Linked DNA regions of Homo sapiens: region 2 is linked to region 1. A link means that fine-mapping ties the variant in region 1 to the expression of a gene that starts in the linked region. Tissue or cell type: esophagus muscle. Region 1 holds a variant in brackets; the other region holds the start of a gene. All regions are shown on one strand. Distances are from middle to middle.

Region 1 (2,753 bases):
TGGAGCTACACAGAGGAAGCAGCAGCAATGCCAACCCTGAAGCCAGGGGCCAAGGAGAAATAAAAGCCTCCTAGCTGCACCCTGTGAGCTAGCCTGAGCTCCCGGCAGCTGTTGCTTTTGCTCCTGATGTGCACACACTAAACACCTTGGTTTGTTTTCCCAGAAGGTAAAAAATCCCCCAAGTTCAACTGATAGGCTTTGAGCAAAGTTTGCAGTGGAAGAAGGCAAATTAAGTAACGCTCCATGTGGGGCCCTTGGGCCAATTCAGTGGCTTTCACTGCAAATGTATTACTGGTATTGATGCTCATACCGGCCTGTACTGCCAATGCCCATAAGTGTCAGATGGGATTCGCCCTTTCAGAGACTGCCACATGTGGAAAGGTGGTTTCTGAACCCTCTTAGATGGTCCAGGAGAAACAGTTTAGACTTTCAAGAGGGAGGCCAGGTGCAGTGGCTCATGCCTGTAATCCCAGCATTTTGGGAGGCTGAGGCTGGGAGATGACGAGGTCAGGTGTTTGAGACCAGCCTGGCCAACATGGTGAAACCTGGTCTCTACTAAAAATACAAAAAGTAGCCGGCCGTGGTGGCGGGCGCCTGTGATCCCAGCTACTCAGGAGGCTGAGGTAGAAGAATCGCTTCAACCCAGGAGGAAGAGGTTGTAGTGAGCCGAGATCGTGCCACTGCATTCCAGCCTGGGCGACAGAGCAAGACTCCATCTGAAAAAAAAAAAAAAAAAATCAGGAAGGAAAAGGGAAATCTGAAAATTAGTCTCAAAGGTGGCCAGATTACTCAGAGGCTGTTCTCAAGCACAATAGCACCACCTGCCTGACACACTCACCAAGCACATAGCTTTAAAAAAATTGTTTAGAGGCCAGGTGCAGTGGCTCACGCCTGTAATCCCAGCACTTTGGGAGGCCGAGGCAGGTGGTTCACCTGAGGTCAGGAGTTCAAGACCAGCCTGACCAATATGGTGAAACCCTGTCTCTACTAAAAATACAAAAATTAGCCGGGCATGATGGCATGCGCCTGTAGTCTCAGCTACTCCGGAGGCTGAGATAGGAGAATTGCTTGAGCCCAGGAGGCGGAGGTTGTGGTGAGCTGAGATCACGTCACTGCGTTCCAGCCTGGGTGACAGCGAGACTCGGCCTAAAAAAAAAAAAA[T/C]TGTTTAGAGAGTGGTTGCTGATCTGTCACCCAGGCTAGAGTGCAGTGACACCATCAGAGCCCCCTGCAGTCTTGAATTCCTGGGCTCAAGCCATCCTCTCACCTCACTGTCCTGAGCAGCTGGAACGACAACTGTGAGCTACCATGCCCGGCTAATTTTACAAAATTTTTCATAGACGTGGTCTCTCAGGCTGGTCTTAAACTCCTTGCCCTCAGGTGATCCTTCCATCCCACCACACCTGGCCCCATCCCTCCCCCATCCCCCTTTTTTGTTTGAGACAGTCTCTCTCTGTCGCCCAGGCTGGAATGCAGTGGCACAATCACAGCTCATTGCAGCCTGGAACTCCTGGGCTCAAGCAATCCTCCCCACTCAGCCTCCTGAGTAGCTTGGTGCCTGCCACCACGTACCATGCCAGCTAATTTTAAAAATACATTTTTGTAGAGATGAGATCTTGCTTTGTTCCCAAGGCTGGTCTTGAACTCCTGGCTTCAAGTGATCCTCCCTCCATAATCCCAAAGCCCTGGGACTACAGGCCTGAGCCACCACATCCGGCCCCATCCCCTCTTTTTTATTTTATTTTATTTTATTTTATTTTATTTTATTTTATTTTACTTTATTTTATTAAGACAGAGTCTTGCTCTGTCTCCCCGGCTGCCAGGCTGGAGTGCAGTGGCATGATCTCAGCTCACTGCAACCTCCACCTCCCAGGTTCAAGCTATTCTCCTGCCTCAGCTTCCCGAGTAACTGGGACTACAGGCATGCGCAACCACACCTGGCTTTTTTGTTTGGTGGTTGTTTTTAAGTAGAGACAGAGTTTCACCATGTTGGCCAGGCTGATCTTGAACTCCTGACCTCAAGCGACCTGCCCTCCTCGGCCTCTCAAAGTGCTGGGATTACAGGCATGAAACACCATGCCAGGCCCCCATCCCCTTTTTAAAAAGGTGCCCACTAACTTGTTACTGACCCAAAAAGTTCCTGTGACTCTCCAAACTGACACTCCCATTTTGGGATGGGTCAACTTGGATTTGGTGGCTACTAAGGGAGGGGCACAAAAGGCATTATTAATCCAATGGAAATACTGTATTCAGTAACACAGCTGGCCTGGTCCTAATATTAGCTGGGTTTTACATGAAAAAGTGGCAGCAAAAATCCCTTCAGGGGAAATCTTTTCCTAACTTCACCACTTGAAGCAAAGCTGCTGGCTCAATGGGGCCCTCAAGTCACAGAGGGTTCCCTAGGCACCTGGCCTGGTACAATGATGGTTTGGCTAGGCTGACACCTTATAGTGTCCACGTTCAACCTCAGCACCAGCTATGCAGAACCAAAAACAGGCATGGGCTGGGCGTGGTGGCTCACGCCTGTAATCCCAGCACTTTGGGAGGCCGAGGCGGGTGGATCACTTGAGGTCAGGAGTTCCAGATCAGCCTGGTCAACGTGGTGAAACCCCGTCTCTACTAAAAATACAAAAATTAGCCGGGCGTGGTGGCGTGCATCTGTAATCCCAGCTACTTGGGAGGCTAGGGGAAGAGAATTGCTTGAACTCAGGAGGCGGAGGTTGCAGTGAGCCGAGATCGCGCCATTGCACTCCAGT
Region 2 (2,500 bases), 22 kb before region 1:
GTATAAATGCAGTTTATAGCTATACATTATTTTTAAAAATCCCCTTCGAATGACTCTTTAAAACATACCAGGGGATACGCTACTTAAGTATAACTAGGTTTTGGATTTATAACGTTAATATTAATTATTAAAGCAAAACTCATTTCTAAAGAGTCGCCTGAGTGCCCAAAAGACGCCCTCAAGGACAGGGAAGCAGCTGCGATTCACTCAGCGATCACCAGCGCCCAGAATTCAGGGCCGCCCAAGCGGAGGAGCAACACGTGGCCCAGCAAAAGGAGCTGGGTCCCGTGCAGCACAGCAACAAGAAACTGGCCTAGGAAGACGCTGGAGCGTCTTTCTTTCGCACGTTACTGCCTGCTACAGTCATTTAAAAAAAAAAAACCAAAAACAAAAAAAAGAAATAAATTAATAGTACGAAGAAAACTGCGCGAGCTACATTCCCAGCAGGGTCTGCGCCAGAGCGCGCCAGGCACCGCTCCCGTTACGGGTGGGAGGAAAGGATGCACCGCCCACCCGGCGCCGGGGAGGCTCGTCCCCGAGTAGGGGACGGGAACGCCTGGGTCCCGGGGACGTGGGGCGCAGGGTCTGGGGCCCGAGGCCACGGACGAAGCGGGAAGCCGGCTAGGCAGCGGTCTCTGTCTGGGATGGACGCCGCGCCCCACGCGGACCTCCCGCCCCGACTTCACCCAGCTCTGCTGCCCGTAACTCATATGACAAGAACATCAGGAACCGGACTATTACCCCGAAAGGGCCTTCCCAAGTCGTTTCGCCGCCTGCAGTGCCCGACCGGGGGCCGCGCGTCCCCGGCAACCACGCCCGCCCGCGCAGCTGCAGAGGCCGGAAAAGGCCCGCTCGCCCGCGCTCGGCACCACCCAGCCCGCGCTCCGGGCGATACCACCCTGGGCGGCCCCTCCAAAGGCCGGAGATGGTGTCGTCCCCGGCCTCCGATTGGTCGGGGGGGCGGGGGCGTGGCCTCTGGAGCCTGGTTCCGCGCGCCGGAGCGCGCTAGCCGCATTGCGAGCCGAACCCGGGAGCTGGCGCCATGGTGAGGAGTGGTTGCGGGGCGCGGGCGACGCGACGGTGGGGGTTTCGGCCTGCGTTCGGGCCGCAGACAGGGCCTGGGCCTGGGCCTGGGCCTGCGCCTGCGCCTGCGCCTGCCCTGGGAACGGGTTCCGGCAGACGCTGAGGTTGCGTTGACGCTCGCGCCCCGGCTCCCGTTCCAGGTGCTGTTGCACGTGCTGTTTGAGCACGCGGTCGGCTACGCGCTGCTGGCGCTGAAGGAAGTGGAGGAGATCAGTCTGCTGCAGCCGCAGGTGGGTGAGATCCGTGGGCTCCTTTGGCGGCCCCGCAGACCCTCATCGCGCGGGTCCCAGCATGCACAGCGCGCTCCCACGTGGCCGGCCGAGCGGTTCGGGGCGGGGGGACGGGCCTGGAAAGCTCTAGATCCGGGGGTCTTTACCTTGACCCATGGGTAGAATCGCTCTAGCAATTAGAAATAAGCCTCCCGGACGCCGCCCCCGAACGATTAAAGCAGAAGCTGGGATGTGGGGCCCAGGTATCAGCATATTTTAAGAGCTTCCAAGGCTGAGAACCGCTGCTTGACTGCGCCGCAGAGGCAGGAGGGAGGGAAGGAAACCACTTAGCCTCTTTCTCCCCCCAGGTGGAGGAGTCTGTGCTCAACCTGGGCAAATTCCACAGCATCGTTCGTCTGGTGGCCTTTTGTCCCTTTGCCTCATCCCAGGTTGCCTTGGAAAATGCCAACGCCGTGTCTGAAGGTAAGTCGGCCACCGCCAAGTGTCACAGAGAGATGTGGTTCCTTTCGGTATCCTCTCGGGCAGCTTGTGATAGTATTTGCCGTCCTTGGCTGGCTCTGAGTCTGATAGGCGTGAGGCAGTATTTGAGCCATACAATGTGTAATTTGAAATAATTGTCTTCACAGAGCTCAAGGTCTGGGAACTGTGCTAGACCAAACTGTTTAAGCAGACGATGTGGAATGTGTGTTAACGTTTCCTTGTGGGCACTGTAGTGACAAACTATTTTTTATTTTTATTTTTTTTGAGATGGAGTCTGTCCCCCAGGCTGGAGTGCAGTGGCAAGATCTGGGCTCACTGCAACCTCTGCCTCCCTGGTTCAGGCGATTCTCCTGCCTCAGCCTCCCGAGTAACTGGGATTACAGGCCTGTGCCAGCCACCACACCCGGCTAATTTTGTATTTTTGGTAGAGACGGGGTTTCACCATGTTGGCCAGGCTAGTCTCCATCTCCTGACCTCGTGATCCGCCCGCCTCGACCTCCCAAGGTGCTGAGGTTGCAGGCGCGAGCGACGGTGCCCGGCCGACAAAGGGGGGTTTCTTAAAGGGGGTCGGCTTAACACCTACTTGTGCCTGAGGTTTTGCCTAAACACAATCAAGTGTCTGGTTCTCTGCTTTCTGTTCGATTGGAAAGGGCAGTTGGGTAAACACAGGCTGAGAAAAAAAGGTTTGGTTCCAGAAGGCAAATTCT

What was found. PIP is the estimated chance that this variant, and not a neighbour inherited with it, causes the effect.
Region 2: NOP56 starts here. The variant in region 1 is fine-mapped to the expression of NOP56 in esophagus muscle (GTEx, PIP 0.97).

The regions. Positions count from the first base shown.
Region 1 is chr20:2,673,432-2,676,184 of GRCh38, forward strand. All of the region lies in intron 2 of LOC105372507 (a long non-coding RNA gene), which reads right to left. Among named protein-coding and RNA genes, the nearest start is that of IDH3B-DT, 11 kb to the left of the region's middle. The variant T/C (reference allele first, on the strand shown) is at 1,162.
Region 2 is chr20:2,651,619-2,654,118 of GRCh38, forward strand. It overlaps NOP56 (NOP56 ribonucleoprotein), which reads left to right and starts at 1,014. Exons shown (of 12, transcript NM_006392.4): 1 at 1,014-1,045; 2 at 1,224-1,313; 3 at 1,661-1,775. The coding sequence starts at 1,043. It overlaps MIR1292 (microRNA 1292), which reads left to right and starts at 1,159; the gene lies at 1,159-1,224. It overlaps LOC105372505 (a long non-coding RNA gene), which reads right to left and starts at 846. Exons shown (of 5, transcript XR_007067502.1): 1 at 742-846. RefSeq lists a silencer at 498-1,137 and an enhancer at 1,638-1,727.